2 separate regions of the Homo sapiens genome follow, and region 1 is linked to region 2. The links come from fine-mapping of genetic effects on gene expression. Tissue or cell type: prefrontal cortex. Region 2 holds a variant in brackets; the other region holds the start of a gene. All regions are shown on one strand. Distances are from middle to middle.

What was found. PIP is the estimated chance that this variant, and not a neighbour inherited with it, causes the effect.
Region 1: FAM234B starts here. The variant in region 2 is fine-mapped to the expression of FAM234B in prefrontal cortex (BrainSeq, PIP 0.92).

Annotation. Positions count from the first base shown.
Region 1 is chr12:13,038,662-13,050,069 of GRCh38, forward strand. It overlaps FAM234B (family with sequence similarity 234 member B), which reads left to right and starts at 5,720. Exons shown (of 13, transcript NM_020853.2): 1 at 5,720-5,779. The coding sequence starts at 5,743.
Region 2 is chr12:13,072,163-13,082,344 of GRCh38, forward strand. FAM234B (family with sequence similarity 234 member B) reads left to right here. Exons shown (of 13, transcript NM_020853.2): 11 at 3,864-3,981; 12 at 7,627-7,847; 13 at 8,463-10,182. The coding sequence ends at 8,468. Among named protein-coding and RNA genes, the nearest start is that of GSG1, 26 kb to the right of the region's middle. The variant G/T (reference allele first, on the strand shown) is at 5,942.

The DNA.
Region 1 (11,408 bases), 33 kb before region 2:
GCACTCCCAACAAATGAGAACAAATGTTGGCCAAATATCAGCTACATTCAGCACTAAAATCTGTCATGAATCAAGTACTTTTATAAAAGAGTTTATAGTTTGGTTACAATGCCATAAGTGAGGCAGGGATTACAAATAGTTTTCAATTTTTGAGCTGAATCCAATTGATAGGTAGTGGCTCCCTGGACAGCGGAGTGAGGGATTCTGAAGCTATGTCTGGGCCCACTGTCAGAGTGTGGTGAGTGACATGTGCCCTGGAAGAAGAAAAGACAAATTGGAGCACACATGCCATGTATCTGACGTCACTGCTTGTGATTAAAAGACAGAAAAACCTGCATTCAAATCCTTCTTCAAGTCCTTGGGAATTGTGTCACTTTGGGCAAATGGCTTTATCCATCTCAGTTTACCTTCCATGGAAAGGTTCTGCCCATAGGATGGAGGTGAGACTATAGCCTCCTGTTGAAGCTAACGGCCGCAGAAGGCAGGAAATAAGGGAGGAGGAGAAAGCCTGAGAGTGGAACTGACCCAAGAGGTCTTAGTGGTGGGGAAGATGAAGTGATGCGGCCAACAGCAGAGACCTGGGAGAAGAGATGCATCTAACAGAGCTTTTTGGGGGGGCGGCGGGGGGGGGGAAATGCTATGTGCCTTGACCCCTTTCCCTGGCCCCTTGAATCTTCAGGAAAACTCCCCAAGTCACAATATGCTTGGCCCATTGCATTTTCTTTTGGAAGGCAGTGAAGGGGCTGATCAAGACTGGCAAGACTCCAAAACACTGTCTTCTTTTATAGGTGATGAGTGCTCAGCGAATGGGGGCTGTTACCATCTACACTGCTACTACAGGTCCTTCGGTTGACATGAACATGCCAGAATGAGGGATGGGAGGACCAAGAGCTCATTTGGCCTGGGTGTGTCTGTCCTTAATTACACTGTTCTCAAACATATGTTCCAGCCAGAGGCTTGTTAAGAAGAAGCCTTTGTTTAAATTTCAGGGCCCACAGAGCATTTTATAGTCTAGACTCTAGAAAGTTTTATAGGCTAAAAGTCTGTATGATCTGAGTGAGATGAGCCCTTGTGTTTTATCAAAGGACATTCTGGGAACATAAACCTGTTTGTCTTCATGACAAGCCATGCAACTCCTGGGCAGAGTTCAGTTCTCTGTGAAGAGAAGTGAATATGCCACTGGTACACATGCGTTTCAAACTTCCTGATCCTCACGCAAGACTGATTTCACAGGCTCCTTGACATCTGCATTTAACTCCTAAATGTCCTCTGCTGTGCACCTCTTTCGCTTTTCTCAATCTCACTGCCCTCACTGCTATTTGCTATGACATTTTCTTTTTGCTTTTCGAATCTCATACTAATTACTGCTTCCTGACCCTTTTTGGCACCAGTGTAGCAGAGGGTACTACCCTCAGCTTCAGATAAGTCAGTGGAGTTCAGATTTGTCCATCCTCTGCTGATAGATGTAGGAATGGCTTCCAGAAATCTCTCTGCAGAGGGAGTGAGGGGAGCCTCCTGGGAGAGCTTCAGCTTAGACCCATAAGTCATTACAAGAAACTCAGCTCAGGAACAAAGCCTTAGTCCCTACAGGAGAAAGGCAATCCTAAGGAGAGCGGCGCCTGAACCCTTTCCTACCATCAAGAACTCAAGAACTCAGGTCTGTAATTTACAAAGGCATGGGGTGACCAGTGTCGCAGACACTGGCTAGATGCTCCCCAAACTTGTCTCCTTTTCTTCCTGGGCTCATACCTTCCTGGCACACATACTCTCTGTCTGAATTCTAGCCTAATAAATGTGGGCAGAATTCACATACACCAGCTCCAGGCCTGGCCCATAACACTTCCTGCATGATCTGGGATGCAAACGATCCAGTGGAGGCCTCCGAGGCCCTAAGGATGAAGCAGCTGGAGACAGAAGGGCCTGGGTCCCTGAATGGCTGGGAGGAATAGAGCCCCAGTGCAGTCTACTTGCACCCCCACCTTGACTCTGACATAGGCAGAAATAAATTTTTACACTCTAAAATCATTGGAATCTTGAGGTTGTTTGTTACAGCAATTATCTTGCTCTGGTTGACCTGCTAAGTAAAAATAGAAGCTCTGTCTAATGAAAATACTGCATTCAACCTGAAGGAGTAGCAGCATAGCATTGGCAATTTCCTAATAAAGTGTAATATGAAAAGGAGAGAAAGGCAGTCTTCCCTGGTTTCCTTTGCCCCTCACAGCTTTGACATTTTAGGAGCACTAAAATATGAGGTGGCATTTAGTGAGAGATACAGGAAGAGGCAGCAGTTTTTGAGAGGAGGCAGTTTTTGAGGGGCCTGGCAGCGCAGTGGAACCAAGGAGGAAGGGAGGCGGCCGCTGGTAGATACAGTGGCATTGGTTCCAAGAAGAGGTGGTGAAACCTAGTGGGGATAGTCAGGACCAGCAGAAGTGGCCACACTGTCCAGGGAAAGGCAAGCATTAGATGGTCAGATTTGATCATAAGCCCATGCAGGACACTTAGAGATTCTGAGCAGTACTTGGAGTATTACAAAGGTAATAACCAGCAATATGGGTTCCCTCTATGAGTTATGGGAACTTGAGAAGGTTGGGGAAGAACACTCTCACTGTAGATCAATGTAGGAAAAATAGAAGGTGATTTTCTGACTTCAGTTGTGATTTTTCAGAAAAGTAATTTCTTCAAGCAGGCACAGCCACCAGGCAGGTTAGGCTGTTCATAGGCATCCCGCCCCGGTCACTCTTGTACTTGTCAGGAAGGCAAGCCAAGTTCAGAAGTCAGAGAGGGCCTGGGTGTTTGCATTTTCCACAGTGACCTCAGTGGGTGTTTGGACAACAAAGGTATTCACATTCCACTAGGTAGCTAGAAAGGAACTCACAGGTATTCTCCATGTAAAAGGTAAGGATCCTGATTCATTTGGCAGCTGCTTTGAATTTTTTTCTTTAATTGAAAAGAAAGTACATTAAATTTGAGAAATACTATTCTAAGCTGCAGTTCCTATGTTAAAATGGAAAAAAGTTGTGGAGGGATGAAAGAGATTTCTAGAGGGACAAGGAAGACAAAGTGGAGGAAAGCTCAGGAAGCCAAGGAAGGAGGAATTCCTGGGCATCGGCCTCCCTGCAAAAATCATTCGGGCAAAGCTGGGGTGATTATGGGGAGTGTGCAGATGCCTTAAAGGTCAAGCATTGAAATCTGAGGAGCCGGAGATGCTGCATCTATTGGATGTATGTACACTGACACATGTTTATATGTACACATGTAAGTGTGTACATGCACATGGGCACTTTGGGTAACTACACAGTTTGAAGCAAAGTTTTTTTTTGTTTTGTTTTGTTTTTGAGACAGGGGTCTCATACTGTTGCCCAGGTTGGAGTACAGTGGTTCAATCACAGTTCACTGCAGCTTCCAACTCCTCAACTCCAGTAATCCTCCCACCTCAGCCTCTCAAAGTGCTGGGATTGCAGGCACAAGCCACTGTGCCTGGTTCTGAGACAAAGTTTTTAAATAAAACTTTATACATCTTTATTTTATTTATATCACAGAAGAAGGTACTCTCCCGGAATATACCTTTTCACTAAGAAAAGGAGACAGATTTTTCTTCTTTCTTCCTATCCTGTGTGACCTGGCTATTCCTTTCCACCCAAACTTTCTCCTAGAAACTCAAGTTCTTGTTCTGCAACTAAAATGAACATTTTTCTACATCCCTGTCACATTCACAGGTTATTTTTCTCAGTCTTCATATTTCAGGAATGCGTTCCATTTAGTTAAACTGATATCAGGCAAGCTACTACTGGCTCATTGTGACTTGTAGTGTTGCTCCTTTTAGATGACCTACATAGATGTAAAATATGTTTTTTAATCATGCCTCCAGAGAAGTGGCAAGCAGTAGAAATTTTGGGTATTGTAGAATGTTGAAAGAATTAATAAATAAATACATTACTAAACCATTAAATTACTATGAAATGTATTATTTGTTATTAAGTTACAAATTTTAAATTGTTAAAACATTAAGAAATTATCGATAAAAGAAGAGTGAATACTTAGAAAACACTAAGTGCCAGGCACTGTTGTAAGTGCTTTCTACATATATATTTAATTCTCAGGAGAACTCTATAAACTAGGAACTGTTTTGTCCCCATTTTGCAGATGAGAAAATTGAGGTGGGGAGAAATTAAGCAACTAACCCTCTGCCTGGCATCTAGGAAATGATAGAGTCAGGATTTGATCTCGGGAGGCCTGGCTCCTGGCTCCAGAGCCTGTGCTCTATCAGAGACAATGACATTTTTTTTTTCCAAGGGAAGAAAGGAGGTGAGACTGATTGCTGGAGACTCTCAGATTACTCCCACAGGATAGTCCTGTCTGCAGTTTCTCACGGGAATTAGGCAGCCTGCAAATGAGATGTATCTTGGAGCTTTTGTTGTGACACTCAGAAGTTACATTACCTTTCTATTTCTCAGCTTTCTCTTAAACAAAACAAGGAGAGTGGGACTAGATAGCCTCTAGGATCTGTTCCAGTTCTAAGATAACACAGTATTAGCATTCCTGCACTAAAATGCTGATCACTTGCGTGTGGGAAAGAAGCAAGTCAGTTCTTCCTTCTACACCACTGTGCCTGGTCCTGAGGCAAGCCAAGTTCAGAAGTCAGAGAGGGCCTGGGTGTTTGCATTTTCCACAGTGACCTCAGTGGGTGTTTGGGCAGCAAAAGTATTCACATTCCACTCAGTAGCTAGAGAGGAACACACAGGTATTCTCTATGTAAAAGGTAAGGATCCTGATTCATTTGGCAGCTGCTTTGAATTTTTTTCTTTAATTGAAAAGAAAGTACATTAAATTTGAGAAATACTATTCTAAGCTGCAGTTCCTATGTTAAAATGGAAAAAAGTTATGGAGGGATGAAGGAGATTTCCAGAGGGACAAGGAAGACAAAGTGGGGGAAAGCTCAGGGAGCCAAGGAAGGAGGAATTCCTGGGCATCGGGCTCTCCGCAAAAATCATTCAGGCAAAGCTGGGGTGATTACGGGGAGCGTGCAGATGCCTTAAAGGTCAAGCATTGAAATCTGAGGAGCTGGAGATGCTGCATCTATTGGATGTATGTACACAGTCGGATCCTCCTTCTACACCCTTCAACTAGAAGCTGCAGCGTAGGGTGCTGAGTAGACACCTGTAAAGAACTGGGAGCAATAAATGAGGGTTCGAGCTCCAGGAAACTTCAACTTCTACCTAAGAAGCGTAATAGAAACACTCTTACTAGGTGCCTACTGTGTGCTGTGTGTTTTAAACAGGTCGTATCATTTAATTCTCATTGCAAGCTTGTGAAGTAGGTAGTATGTCTTTAATTAAAAAAAAGCAGCGGCAGCTCAGTCGCCCCAAGGGACTTGCCCAAGATGGCCCAGCTAGTAAGTGATTCAGGCAGGATTCAAATCCAGTCTGCCTGATTTCAAAGCCCACGCACATTGCACAATCCACACCTCCTTAAATATCTCCTTCGAATCATTTTCACTGCAAGCTTACGGGGTATTTTCTCCCCATTTCACTGACGAGGCAAGTGAGACTCAGAGTGGTGAGGTGACCTGCATAGGTAGGGTGGGAGAAAAGCCTGCGGAGCGTGTACTCTGGCTTGGCCTCCCTCAGCTCTGTCCCCAGCAAGCGGGTCCCACCTTTCCCGGTCCCAGCCCCACGCACCGCCGCTCGGAACTACACTTCCCGGCAGAACGCGGGCGCGCGCACGCGCACCGGGGCCTCAGCCATGGCGACCGTGCTGTCCAGGGCGCTCAAGCTGCCGGGTAAGGAGTCGCATGCTTGCGACCACCCAGTCCCCGCCGGTGTTGGAATAAGGGGAGGCGAGGCTCTGGGGGCGAGGCCGGTCGGGCCCTGGCCTCAACCCAGACTCAGCTGCAGGCGCCCGGTGCCGAGGAGGGTGCAGTCCCTTGGGGCTGGGGTCTCTGTGCCACCAGAGGGCGAGAGGGGCGCCCAGCGGGGCAGGGGTCTCGGGCGCGGGGCGAACCCGGAGACGCGCGGGGAGAGGGCGCCGAGCAGGTGTTACGGCGGGGAATGTCAGAACGCCGGTCGCCGCTGTCCCGAGGGGAGGCTGGCGAGAGGAGCATCCTTCCCGAGCGCCGCGGACCCAGCACCGCAGGGACTCCGGCGCCTTCTGTCTTGGCTGGACCTGGGCGGGGGCGGCGGGACGGCGAGTGGCCCTCTGTGGATCATCCCCTCCACCTAACGGCAGCAACGACGCATCCATGAGGCAGGTGGGACAGGTATTTACGTCCCTTCCTAGTTTACAGAAGAGAAAATGAGAGTTATTTGGCTAAGTGAATTGTCCAAGGTCTCACAAGTATTGGGAAAGCTCGGCCTTGAACGTCAGGGGTCTTTTCACTCTAAATCCTGAGCTTTTGATTCCACTTGGTCAGTCTCCAGCTGCCGAGATTAAGCATGGGAAATGATTTGGCACCTATAAGTTGAAGATAATGTATGGAATCTTCTTTAAGGCAGCATTAGGGGTGATGACAACTTCCAGAGCTGATTCAGTACTTCGGGCAGCAGCTCCAAGTTTTTTTTCCTTTTTTTTTTTTTTTCCTCCTAAACCTCCAGAGTAGGATTGTACTGTTAGAAAGTTGATATTTAAATAAAAGTATATTTATTCCACCCAAGTAAATTTTAAACATTAGGCTTTAGAAAAATTGATGGCTCTACCTAGGTAAGTTTTAAGCATTAAGCTATAAACATTTATTTGCTGATAATTTGTATTAGAGGGAAAAGCAGTTGCTTTCATAGCTATCTCTAGAGAGGGCTATTTGGGTTTTGGTTGGATAGCTAGTTTGAGCTTGCAGGGGGATTACAGGGTCCTTGTTCTCAAGGAGCTTCCAGTATGCTACCCTGAAGCGAACCTTGCCATTTGGATGACGCTAGGTTGGATATTAATTTGCGTTTCTGTCCCCAGACTTCATGACCTCAGACAGATTATTATTTTTTTTAATATGGGCTCATTGGAACATTGGAAGGAACACTGATAGCATCTGCCTTGGAATGTGTGCATAACACTGGAATTAAAGGAGAGACGTGGCCCTTTACCTGCAGGATTAATTTTTTACTTTTTTACTTTGTATATCCTTAGTGTAGAATGATGTCCTCCCAGAGGGGTAATAAGATGTCAGACATTTAGCTTTATTTCTTTTTTTTTTTTCTTTTAGAGTCCTTTTTTAAAATTTCAGTGTAGGTCATTGTTATTCTCTAAGAATGAGAATGCATGAAAATCTTGCTTTAGCAACTCTTGAGGTCTTTTGTGTTCTTATGCCCCAAGGCTGTGGTGTTATTACTCCCTGGAGTATTAGTTGTAGGAACTGGTTGGGGTTCCCATAGTCCAGTCCATGGGCCTGTTTGGCAGGCAGCTTGGCCCTGAGCCCTGAGGTATGCTTGATGCTTTTTTAGGCCCAGATATAGTAGGCATGTGTTCTTTCATGTGATGTGGGTTTTAAGAAAATGTTCACTTGCGTCTACGGCCATACCACCCTGAACGCGCCCGATCTCGTCTGATCTCGGAAGCTAAGCAGGGTCGGGCCTGGTTAGTACTTGGATGGGAGAAAATGTTCACTTGCGTTTTTCCTTGTCTCCTTCTTGCCCTTTCTTCTTCCCTCCACCCAAAATACTATTTTTAGTTTTTGCATTAGGTACAAGTTGTTTTTATATAGCTCTTTTTGGCTCCCCTGTAATTGGGGTCCTGAGACTGCTGTCCTGTTTGGGCTACTGTGTTATGTTCCTGTAGTTAACATCCCCACTGTTTTCTTTGTTTGTTTTTTTGTTTGTTTGTTTGTTTTTTTGAGACGGAGTTTTGCTCTTCTTGCCCAGGCTGGAGTGCAATTGTGTGATCTCGGCTCACCGCAACCTCCGCCTCCTGGGTTCAAGCAATTCTCCTGCCTCAACCTCCCGAGTAGCTGGGATTACAGGCATGCACCACAATGCCCAGCTAATTTTGTATTTTTAGTAGAGACAGGGTTTCTCCATGTTGGTCAGGCTGGTCTGGAACTCCCGACCTCAGGTGATCGCCTGCCTTGGCCTCCCAAAGTGCTGGGATTACAGGCATGAGCCACTGCGTCTGGCCCCAACATCCCCACTGTTTTCATGTGTGAGGAAGTCAGGTTGGAGTGGTGGCTGAGAGCATGAGACAGGCTCGGGTTCAAATCCAGTCTTTACCTAATTAGTTACTTAATCTCTTTAAGCTTTAGTTTCCTCATCTGTAACAATAACATTATTATGGAACATTCACTCTATGCCACACATTCTACTACATATTTACCTCCTAGGGTTATCTGAAATAGTAAAGGAGATGGATGTACTTAGGAGGTCTAGTAACCTCTGACATATGTTAATTAGTCAGTAAGTGTTAGCTGTTGTCATCAGCAGTGTGCTCATTTATGAATGTGATACCTGAAGGAAGGCTTGATGTAATAGTGAGCTATTGACAGATCTCAGCAGTCTTGTTATGAAAGAGCAGTTTCGCTAAGCTCAAGAAGGAAAGATGTTTGGCTCACATGCATAAAATGAGGTTAATTAGTAGCAGAAGGCCAATATGACATTCATAAAGCCTGTAGGGCAGCTTATCTCCTAAGTATATATATATTTTTTTTCTTAGGCCATTTTAAAGTTTGAAGGTCAAACACTGGAGGGAATATCAGAGCAAAATGATTTTTTATGATTTATTTTGTTTGTGTAACTTAGTCTTTATATGCCCTTGGGTAAACTAACCCATGATATGAATTATTTACCTTTAGTTGCAGTAGAGTGTATTGTATAGTATATGCACAGTATAGTGTATACTATAGTATAGTATATGTTATAGAATAGTGTATGTTTTAGTATATTTCCTGAAAACGTTTGGGTATGGTATAGTTGCATCACTTTCCTATTTGTGTTTTCCTCTCTACCATTTTGGAAATCCTATTATATTTAAGCAGCATCTTCAGTCTTCCTAAGAGGAAAAGCAATAGCTGTGGAAAGCGCATTTATAATGATTTGTTATGAAATCAGTGCCCTCTCCCTTATTCTTTGAAAACCTTTCATTCATTAAAAATTTGGGTGGTGGCTGAAAGTAGCAAGGAAGCGAGTGAGTGCTAAGTGCCCTAAGCTTGGAAGCTGGATTTGACGCCTGGCTCCTCAGCCTGAGTAGGACTTAAGGCAAGTTGGTGGACTTCTTTTAAGGCAAGTTGGTGGACTTCTTTTAAGGCAAGTTGGTGGACGTCTTTTACTTCACGCTCTCTTATTGTCTTTCTGTAAATAGATAGAAAAAATATTATTAAAGACTTCTCTAATCAAAACTTGCAGTCTGTAATCCTTAAGCGGAGGTTTGTTTTTGCAGTATCTGAAAAAAAAATTAGTATAAAAGTATTTATTCCTCTCAAAAGGCTGGCCAAGAACTGGCCCCTAGTCTTCTGTGATGTAAAGAAAGCATAGGAATATGATAACTCAGAGCGCTTGTGTGCTTGTCTTTATATTTCGGTGATGTCATGGCTGGGTCAGAATGCTTGGACATCAAATTGCATGTTCTTTCTCTGAGGACTTTTTAGATATTGCTCCGCTATCTTTTAATAGTGTATGTTACTATGGAGAAATCTTTGCCTGATTTTTGTTCCTGTCATTAGTGACTTGATTCTTTTTCCTTTGGCCTGGCTGCTTATAGGATTCCTTCTTTGTCCTTGAAGTCCTGTGCCTTTACTAGGATATATTTCAGTATTGATTCTTCTGAATCAGTTTTTCTTGGGACTCTGTGTACTCATTATTCTGCAGTTTTAGGTCTTTATTGTAGGAAGTTTTTTTTGGCAACTCTTTAAAATACTGCTTTTGGTTCTTTTCTGTTTTCTGTTATCCTCTTTTCTGTTATCCTCTTTTCTGTTATCCTCTTCGGTCATGCATATATTGGCTCACCTTTGTTGTCAGTATCTATCACGTTGTTTCTAGTCTTTTTAAAGCCTTGATTTTTTTTCCACGGGATCATATGTAGCCCGTACAGACTTTGAAGCCAGACTGGTTTTGAATTGTTACCTATCACTTGCTGTTTATCTGTGGGCCAATGTATTAGTCTGTTTTCACACTGCTGATAAAGACATACTTGAGACGAGGCAATTTATAAAAGAAAGAGGTTTAATGGTCTTACAGTTCTGTGTGCCTAGGGAGGCCTCACAATCATGGTGGAAGGTAAAAGGCACATCTTACATGGTGGCGGCAAGAGAGAATGAGAACCAAGCGAAACAGGGTTCCCCTTGTAAAACCATCAGATCTCGTGAGACTTATTCACTACCATGAGAACAGTACGGAAGAAACTGCCCCCATGATTCAGTTATCTCCCACTGGGTCCCTCCCACAACACATGGGAATTATGGAAGTACAATTCAAGTTGAGATTTGGGTGGGGACACAGAGCCAAACCACATCCGCTAATTACTTAAACTTCCAAGCCTCAGCTTCCTCATCTTGAAAGTGAAGACAGTAATGTGTCTACCTCACATAGTTGTTATGAAGATTTACTGAGATAAGAATTTTTTTTTGAGACAAAGTCTTGTTCTGTCGCCCAGGCTGGAGTGCAGTGGCATGGTCTCGACTCACTCTAACCTCCGCCTCCCAGGTTCAAGCAATTTTAATGCCTCAGCCTCCTGAGTAGCTGGGGTTACAGGCGCCTGCCACCACACGTGGCAAATTTTTGTATTTTCAGTAGAGACGGGGTCTCGCCACGTTGGCCGGGCTGGTCTTGAAGTCCTGACCTCAAGTGATCTGCTCGCCTTGGCCTCCCAAAGTGCTGGGATTACAGGCGTGAGCCAGCACCCCTGGTCTGAGATAAGACATTAAAAGGGCTTGGAAGAGTGTAGGATAAGTGTTCAGAACTGCCAGCTGTAGTTATTTCCATTACATTTTGCTTGATTTTCACTAGTCTATTCTTTTTATGTCTCTGACTCTGTTTTCAGCAATATCTGTTCCTTTAGCTGATTCCAATAAGGATTTCTTTTCTAAAACTGGTTTGTTATTTTTTCCATTGTTTTCCTGAGTGCTTATTTCAGAGAAGACGATTTTCCTAAATTTCTCAGACTCCATGGGGAAGTATATGTTCATTATTTCTTCCATCTTGTGGTGTGATTTGTCCAGCATTTGTTTTTCAGCTAATTGTTTGTTATGTTTCGTTGTTACTTCTTTCTTGAATATTTGTAGAGCTTTGTGGTATCTTGTGGAATGAGTACTAAACATGGCTCCTTTCTGATTATTACTTATATTTAAATGGGGCGGTTGTTTGACAGCCTGGCTATTGCCAAAGGGGTGATCTAGGGCCGTTGGAAGCAAGAATGTAATCCAGGCCTGTTAAGTCAGCTGGCTCCCCACCAGCACTCTTCCTGTGTGGATGTCTCTATCCTGGCTAGGAGGAGGCTTT
Region 2 (10,182 bases):
TGACGGAGGCAGGATCCTGAATTCATCAACCAGGCTCAGTCAACAAGTCGCTCAACTTCTCTGAACCTCATTATCTTTATCCATTAATGGTTAATGAACATGCTAATATATTTACTCATTTTGAGGATCAGATTTACCTAAAATCTAGATTGTATTTCTAACTCTGACATGGCCTAACAGTGTGACCGTGGGCAATTTACCTAACATTTCAACTTCCTCCCCACCTATGAGGGGACTTCAGAAAGTTCATGGAAAAATGTAATTAAAATATAAAAATAAAAAATATCGGCTGGGCGCAGTGGCTCATGCCTGTAATCCCAGCACTTTGGGAGGCCGAGGCAGGAGAATCACAAGGTCAGGAGTTCGATACCAGCCTGGCCAATGTAGTGAAACCTCGTCTCTACTAAAAATACAAAAAATAGCCAGGTGTGATGGTGGGCACCTGTAATTCCAGCTATCTGGGAGGCTGAGGCAGGAGAATCGCTTGAACCCGGGAGGCAGAGGTTGCAGTGAGCCGAGATCATGCAATTGCACTCCAGCCCAGGCGACAGTGCGAGACTTTGTCTCAAAAAAAAAAAAAAAAAAGAACTTTATTTCTTAACATAAGCTCCATCAAGTTCAAGACACTTTGTAAGCACTGATACCAGCCGTTTAGTCCATCCCTAAAGAACTGAGGGTCCTGGGCGTTTCATCATGTCAATGCAGTCTTTTTTTACATTATAAACTGAAAAAAATGAGAGCCCTTTAAAGATTTCTTAAGATTAGGAAACTAAAGAAAGTCACAAGGAGCTAACTCAGAACCATAAGGTGGATGCCTCATGATTTCCCATTGAAACTCACAAAATTGCTCGTTTGATGAGAGGAATGAGTAGGAACATTGTTGTGATGGAGAAGAACTCTCTGGTGAAGCTTTCCCAGGTGTTTTTCTGCTAAAGCTTTGGCTTTCTCAAACACTCTCATTTTAAGCAGATGTTATCATTCTTTTTTTGTCTTTTTTTTTTTTTTCCTTTTTGTGGAGAATGGGGTCTTGCTGTATTGCCCAGGCAGGCCTCGAACTCCTGGGCTCAAGCTGTCATCCTGCCTCTGCTTCCCTAAGAGCTGGGATTACAGGCATGAGCCACCGCACCCAGCCAATGTTATCATTCTTTAGCCTTAACGTCAACATAATGTGCATTTCTTCTGCTGTAGAGAGTTTGAAGACTGACACTCAGGCCTTGGAACTTTTGTTTTATAATTGATGATTTGCCTCTGTCTGGTCAACAAGCAAAATGCCTTGGGCATCCCTCCAAAATACTGTCATGACTTTTGCTGTTGACCTTTCCACTTTTTCTTGGACTGGACCACTTCCACCTCTTGTAGTCATTGCTTTCATTGTGCTTTGCCTTCAGGAGCACACTGGTAAAGCCATGTTTCATCTCCTGCTACAGATCTTCAAAGAAATGCTTCCAGGATCTTGATCCCACTTGTTTAAAATTTCCATTGAAAGTCCTGCTGTTGTCTGCAGCTAATATGGGCCAACAGTTTTGCCACCCATCCCGTGGAAAGTTCGCTCAACTTTAATTTTTCAACCAGAATTACGTAAACTGAACCAATTGAGGTGTCTTCAGTGGTGGCTATTGTTTGTGCTGTTAATCATTGGTTCTCTTCAGTTAGGGCATGAACAAGATTAATTTTTTCCTCACAAATTGTTGAGGATGGTCTGCCATTGTGGGTTTAATCTCCGACATCATTTTGTCCCTCGTGAAAATGAGCTATCCGCGTCTAAGCTGCTGATCTCTCTGGGGCATTGTCATCACAAATTCTTCAGAAAGCATCAATGATTTCACCATTCTTCCACCCAAAATTCACCACAAATTTGATGCATGTTCTTGCTTCACCTTTTTGGCAGAATTTGTGTTACTTTGATAGGGGCTGTTTTCAAACTGATATCTTACCCTTCTTGGTGCCTCAGACTAGCTCCTGTTCAGGCATGTTATAACAAGTTAGTATGAGTTTCCTCTGGTGCAAAAAAAATTTTGAAGTCCTTGCATAGTTTTTTCATAATCTGCATTTCCATGAACTTTTTGAAGACCCCTCCTATAATAAAATGAGGGTATTGGGCAAGATAAGTCTCAAGTGTAGTCTTCTATAAATAACTACAAAAAGAAAAGAGCCATGTTACAAATGCTTTAATAGAGGTACAAGTAAGAAGTTTACATGGAAGCACAAAAGAAGGGAGATGTTAATTTTGCCTAGGGTAATAAGGGAGCTTTTCCTCAAAGAGGGGGCCAAGGTGGGCACCTAAGGACGAGAAGTGTAGAGATGGGGTAGAGAGGATAGTTAGACAGTCTAAGAGGCAAATAAGATTGGCAACGGTTAGGCAGAGTAAGGTGAAGCATGGATTGAGGGTGATGATCAGACATTTGTGCAGCATGGGGTGGGCAGGTGAGTCATAGCAGCTCAGTCTGGAAAAGGCATATTTTGGTTAAATGGTATAAGACTGCTAAGGAATTTGTGCTTCATTCTGTAGGCAGTGAGGAAGGTGTATGGCTGTTTTCTTCTCATGTTAGCTGAGCTGGAGATCTGTCCTTTCATACCTGGGATCCTAAGGGTGTGTGGAAGATGCCCTCTTCTGCTTTGTGGGGATGTGTTGAGAGTGAGGTTGCAAGCTTCCTGCTCACACTTCTCCTCACTTGGGGACTTCTTCCCATGCAGCGATATGGAAGCAGGGGTAATATTCATCCCTCAGAGCTTCCATTTCCTCTACTGCAGGAGGCCCAAGGTAGTCCCAGGGGAGGAGAGGCACTTGGGAAGCTCTGGAGAGCAGCCACTTACTAACTCACATGGGTGTACTTCTGTGCCTTAACAACTGCATGGCTGCACACTCATGTACCTGCCAAGTCTCAAGTCCCATCCCCACATAGAAGTCATACTGATAAAGATAGTCCCAATGTGCATTTCTTCTGCTGTAGAGAGTTTGAAGACTGACACTCAGGCCTTGGAACTTTTGTTTTATAATTGATGATTTGCCTCTGTCTGGTCAACATTCCACTCATTTCAGGAACAGATAAGATTTTTGTAATTTTTAGCCTGATGCTTGCAGTTGGCTTTGACACCCAGTGAAAGGAAATATCTTTGGCTCACTGTGTTTTCATGAATAGATTACATCTCCACAAAGCCCCATCTGCTGCAAGGGATGAACCAGTATTCCAGTACTTCCATGGGCAGAAGACTGGGACATCTTGTCAGATTCCTCTCTTGGGACCTGTACATTGCCTTTTCTTTTCTTTTCTTTTTTTTTTTTTTTATTTTTTGAGACAGAGTCTCTCTCTGTCACCCAGGCTGGAGTGCAGTGGCATGATCTTGGCTCACTGCAACCTGTGCCTCCCAGGTTCAAGTGATTCTCCTGCCTCAGCCTCCTGAGTAGCTGGGGCTACAGGCATACCACCAAGCCCAGCTTTTTTTTCTCTTTTTTTTTTTTTTTTTGTATTTTCGGTAGGGACAGGGTTTCTCCATGTTGGCCAGGCTGGTCTCGAACTCCTGACCTCAGGTCATCTGCCCACCTCGGCCTCCTAAAGTGCTGGGATTACAGGCATGAGCCACCGCACCAGGCCTGCCTTCCTTTTTTTTCTTACAAGGGAGAAAGCATTTTCCAGCTGTAGATAGTGGTTTGAAAGAGTTAGTGATTACTATTTTGAGCTCTTTGAAATATGTCTCTTATACAGGGGAGTTTCTTTCAAACACATTCTTGTAGTTAGGATCAGGCATTAGCATCTGAGAGGAATGAGTAATCACCATTTTCTACTCTGCCTTTTCACCTGAGGACTGTCACGTGTGGGAATGTAGCGTTACCTTTGCTCTTCCTTTTTGCTGCTTATTATCAGGATATCATCCTAGGAACTGAGCCGCCCAGCCTTCACCACCTTTACCTCCTGCATCCTGCGTTCCCCTCCATCCTTCTGGATCTGGCCAACACCACCGGCACAGTGACGGCTTCAGAGGGTGAGTCCCAGTGCCAGCGGGAGTCTGTGTACGCAGATGGTGGGAGAGTATGTGTTGGCTGTGTGTAATGAGACCATTGCCCCACCCAGGGAAGGATGTGTGCTTCTCAGACGACAGCAGGGCACTTTCCCTGGTGTCCCTGGTGCCTCTTTGCTGGAATGCTCCCCTGGGTGGAAGCCCCGGGCTCACAGGGTGAGAACCCATATGCTCTGAATGTGGAGGTGAAAGCGCGTCCCATTCCAAAGGGTCTGTAAGGTGATGATTCATCCAGCCACTCCTTCAGCAGACATTTAATGAGCATCATCTGTATGCCAGACACTGTGCCAGGTGCTGGGACTACAAATAAGACTAGTTTCTTGACCCACTCAGAGATTAGGATTTGGAATTAACTGTGAAGGACATGATGGAGATAGAATGTGTTTTGCCAGGGCATTGATTTAGAAAACCTTTTTTTGAATATAACTGTGCACCCTGCATAGAAATTGGAGAAAGAAGAAAAATCAAAGGAAGAAAGAAAAATTGGCCATAATCTGGCCACTCATAACCACTATTAGCATTTTGGAAGTGTTCTTCTACTTTACATATCTGTCTAAATAACACTGTAAATAAAATGGGATCCTATATGGGAGACCCTCAACTCAGGAAACCAAAGCATTGGGATTGCAGCCTCTGCTGCCTGCTAGTCTAGGTTGTCTGGTGATCTCCTCAGCGATTCCTTCCCTCATGGAATCTGCTGTTCCTGTTGGGAGGTCAGGGAGTGCAGGAGTGGGAGAGGACCAGATGACCACATCTCCTTTCTTTCTTTCCACATTCTCTTGCTACTTATGGACTTGGCTGTCTACTTACAAACTCATTGGCCTTGGGCTGCAGCTGGTGTTTGTAGCTCTCTCGATTTATTGGGATACACGGGGAAGAACAGCTTACCTGGAACTTGCAGGCACACCTGTCCACTGATTGGGGGGTGGGGGCAGGGAGGTATGAGCTTGGAAAATCCTGTGATTAGATCTGAGTGAGCTGTTTTTTCAACAGTAGCATAAAATATTCAGTGAACATCAAATAATGGTAATTAAGAATCTTGACACCATTTTTATTACAACTTGTATTTTATTTTATTTATTCATTTTTTAAATTTTATTATTATTATACTTTAAGGTTTAGGGTACATGTGCACAATGTGCAGGTTAGTTACATATGTATACATGTGCCATGCTGGTGTGCTGCACCCATTAACTCGTCATCTAGCATTAGGTATATCTCCTAATGCTATCCCTCCCCCCTCCCCCCCACCCCACAACAGTCCCCAGAGTGTGATGTTCCCCTTCTTGTGTCCATGTGTTCTCATTGTTCTATTCCCACCTATGAGTGAGAACATGCGGTGTTTGGTTTTTTGTCCTTGCGATAGTTTACTGAGAATGATGATTTCTAATTTCATCCATGTCCCTACAAAGGACATGAACTCATCATTTTTTATGGCTGCATAGTATTCCATGGTGTATATGTGCCACATTTTCTTAATCCAGTCTATCATTGTTGGACATTTGGGTTGGTTCCAAGTCTTTGCTATTGTGAATAGTGCCGCAATAAATATACGTGTGCATGTGTCTTTATGGCAGCATGATTTATAGTCTTTTGGGTATATACCCAGTAATGGGATGGCTGGGTCAAATGGTATTTCTAGTTCTAGATCCCTGAGGAATCGCCACACTGACTTCCACAATGGTTGAACTAGTTTACAGTCCCAACAGTGTAAAAGTATTCCTATTTCTCCACATCCTCTCCAGCACCTGTTGTTTCCTGACTTTTTAATGATTGCCATTCTAACTGGTGTGAGATGGTATCTCATTGTGGTTTTGATTTGCATTTCTCTGATGGCCAGTGATGGTGAGCATTTTTTCATGTGTTTTTTGGCTGCATAAATGTCTTCTTTTGAGAAGTGTCTGTTCATGTCCTTCGCCCACTT[G/T]TTGATGGGGTTGTTTGTTTTTTTCTTGTAAATTTGTTGGAGTTCACTGTAGATTCTGGATATTAGCCCTTTGTCAGATGAGTAGGTTGCGAAAATTTTCTCCCATTTTGTAGGTTGCCTGTTCACTCTGATGGTAGTTTCTTTTGCTGTGCAGAAGCTCTTTAGTTTAATTAGATCCCGTTTGTCAATTTTGTCTTTTGTTGCCATTGCTTTTGGTGTTTTAGACATGAAGTCCTTGCCCATGCCTATGTCCTGAATGGTAATGCCTAGGTTTCTTTCTAGGGTTTTTATGGTTTTAGGTCTAACGTTTAAGTCCACAGCCAATATCCTACTGAATGGGCAAAAACTGGAAGCATTCCCTTTGAAAACTGGCATAAGACAGGGATGCCCTCTCTCACCACTCCTATTCAACATAGTGTTGGAAGTTCTGGCTAGGGCAGTTAGGCAAGAGAAGGAAATAAAGGGTATTCAATTAGGAAAAGAGGAAGTCAAATTGTCCATGTTTGCAGATGACATGATTGCATATCTAGAAAACCCCATTGTCTCAGCCCAAAATCTCCTTAAGCTGATAAGCAACTTCAGCAAAGTCTCAGGATACAAAATCAATGTACAAAAATCACAGGCATTCTTATACACCAATAACAGACAAACAGAGAGCCATATCATGAGTGAACTCCCATTCACAATTGCTTCAAAGAGAATAAAAGACCTAGGAATCCAACTTACAAGGGACATGAAGGACCTCTTCAAGGAGAACTACAAACCACTGCTCAAGGAAATAAAAGAGGATACAAACAAATGGAAGAACATTCCATGCTCATGGGTAGGAAGAATCAATATCGTGAAAATGGCCATACTGCCCAAGGTAATTTACAGATTCAATGCCATCCCCATCAAGCTACCAATGACTTTCTTCACAGAATTGGAAAAAACTACTTTAAAGTTCATATGGAACCAAAAAAGAGCCCGTATCACCAAGTCAATCCTAAGCCAAAAGAACAAAGCTGGAGGCATCACGCTACCTGACTTCAAACTATACTACAAGGCTACAGTAACCAAAACAGCATGGTATTGGTACCAAAACAGAGATATAGATCAATGGAACAGAACAGAGCCCTCAGAAATAACGCTGCATACCTACAACTATCTGATCTTTGACAAACCTGAGAAAAACAAGCAATGGAGAAAGGATTCCCTATTTAATAAATGGTGCTGGGAAAACTGGCTAGCCATATGTAGAAAGCTGAAACTGGATCCCTTCCTTACACCTTATACAACTTGTATTTTAAAGATAAGGCAAAATAAACACTGGCAAGGTAAATCGCCTCTGTGACTGCGCACTGACAGTCTGGGAATTCTCAGGCTCCCTAGTGTTTCGGGCTTGCTTTTCTACTGAATTCTTGCCACAAGGGGCACATTCTCTCAGTTCCTGAGTTGGGCTTTTTTGGAAATAGCTTCAGAGGAGTAAAGGTGCAAAGACCAGGAAGAATGTGCTGCTTTACTGGCGTCCAGTCCTTCCCCTCTTTGCACCCGTGGGCTAGCTCACTGCCTTCTGTTTATTCAGTGCTCAGTACATTTCCTGTATGAACTTATGAGTAAATAAATGTATTGTTGAACCAAACCCCTCTCCTGTTAGTGGACGGTATGTGTCCATGTTAACTGCTCTTGTTTTTGTCCTTCCTCAGTTGGAATTAACGACCTCTGGAAAGATGCCTTTTATGTTACCAGGACAACAGGGCCAAGCTCCGAAGGCCATCCAGCAGCCCTGGTGGTCAGCAAGCTTAGTCTACGGTGGGCACTAATGGAGGGCCAGATGGCTCAGCTACAGGAGTCCACCCCCAAAATTGGCCGTGGGGAGCTGCGAAGATTTCTCTCTAGGATAAAGTTTGTTGAAGCTCCCTACGAGGTGAGTGGCTGCAGAAATATTGTTCCTCTTGAGGGTTTAGGACAAATACTACCAATTCCAGCTTTGTCTTTAGAAAGTAGGCAGAATGGGGAACTTTCTTGAGTAGATGTGTATCAAGACAGTTGTTTTGGACCAACACTGTTTCCTATGGATGCCTTCTGACCATGAAGAAATGATTCTCAATTGTTTTCAGCTGGAAATAATAGCATCTTCCTTAGGGGACATTTGACAATGTGGGGTCGTGGTTTTTATTGTCCCAATGACTGACAGGGGTGGCTACGACTGGTATTTTCTGGGTTGGGGCTAGTGATGCTAACATCATGCAGGGCTTGTAGCAGTTACATACTACAAAGAATCATCTTGCTCAAAATGCTAATGTTCCCTCCCCATCCCCACTCCCAAGAAATATTATAGTCTAGTGCAAAGTTCAAAAGCTTATCATGGAAAATAACAAAGTTTCTGGGCCTTTCTGGAAGGAGGAAATGTTTACAGACTATTGGAGCTAAAGAAAAGGACGGGAAAATAGAGAAATATTCTGACCTTTAGTTTTCCTGCTTTTCTTTGAACATCTCTACCATGAAAAACAATAAAGTCACGATAACTCTTTTTCCATAGATCTAATCTGATGGAATCTTCAGTTGCAGAAGAAGTGAACAGAGTGGATACCCTCTCTACTCTCCTGTCACTGTAAAATCAGTTCTATGGAGAGAAGACTTCTTCGTCCTCATTTACCACCTCCCTGATGGTTGCAAAGGCTTGGGAAGGCATGTTGGAGTCTTTGACGGCAGCATGATCTATTTGGCTGGGGCATCTTACCTACCTTTTCAGTCCCTGCATTAATCCCCTCTAGGAACTCTGCGTGGATCGTTTGGAAATGTGAATCTCTTAAGTATTTAATTTTTTTGGTATGTCTAATTTATGAAGTCTTGCTGGGAAAGCCAGTGAAGTCTATGACTAGGAAACATTTTGTTGTACATTGTGCTGTGTGTGTGTATATTTTAGTGTTGTGGTGAAGTTATTTTCCAGGTATGTCCTAAGCTTCAGGGATCCAGTTTCTTGTCCTTCTGAAATATATCTGGTTTGTTTGGTCATTTTGAGACTTCCAGATGCCCTACCTCTGATGTTGAGGGCCACTTATTTCTCTCCTTATTCTTTCCCACCTGTACCTTGGCTACTTCCAAATTGTAGACAGAATGAGAAAGATTTATAGTGGAAGACTGAGTTAGCCATCCAAGCATTTTCATCTCTCTTGTTTTATATCCTATTTCCTTAGATTTTCCATCCATGTCTATTAAGTGACCACAAGAATAACTATATTCCTATCACAAGGGGAGCAAGAGGATGTAGTCTCAGTGACCCATCTCTGACCAAGTCCACATGTTGTGTTATATGTGGCTCTGATGGTTCTGCCAGTCATGATCTTTTTTCTGTGGCGACATCAGAAGTGTATGTTTGCATGCTGTCTTCAACTTAGAGGAGAACTGGAAGTCAGGAGCCTTTGATGTCCTTATCCTGCTGTATGTCTTCTCTGCATCTTTTTCTATAGGGCACCCTCCTTAGCTCCCCTCACTCTGTTTTCTCTTCTATTCAGGGATATGTTTCTGGACTTTTTCTTCTGCTACTTGAGTCCAGGATGCAACCATTTTGTCCTGCATCTCTTCTTTCCTGTAGAGCCTTTGAAGCATTGTATTTTGGGAAAATTCTTCTGTAAATACTATAACTTTTATAAATGGTTAAGTTATTTAGAATTATCTCCAGTGCTTACTTCTCCCTTCTTCTGTATAAATCTGCTACTTCAATTAAGTTCTCCTCTAAACTTTTAGGTCATTGTTTATATAGCAGAAAATTCAATGTTAGCGGATGGAAAACTGCTTCTTGAATAACCTTGATAGGTCATCCCTGAGTGCACCTCAGGTTCTCTCTTTACCTGGGCTTGTATCTTTTTTTTTTTTTTTTTTTTTTTTTTGAGACAGAGTTTTGCTCTTGTCGCCCAGGCTGGAGTGCAGTGGCACAATCTCGGCTCACTGCAACCTTCGCCTCCTGGGTTCAAGCGATTCTCCAGCCTTAGCCTCCCAAGTAGCTGGGACTACAGGTGCCCGCTACCATGCCTGGCTAATTTTTTTTTTTGTATTTTTAGTAGAGACGGGGTTTCACCATGTTGGCCAGGCTGGTCACGAACTCCTGACCTCAGATAATCCACCTGCTTCTGCCTCCCAAAGTGCTGGGATTACAGGCGTGAGCCACCATGCCCGGCTGGGCTTGTATCTTTTAGCTTGTGTTAGTAAAAGGATTCTAGAAAATTATGAAGTCCAGATTCAAAGGGATCTCTGTTAAT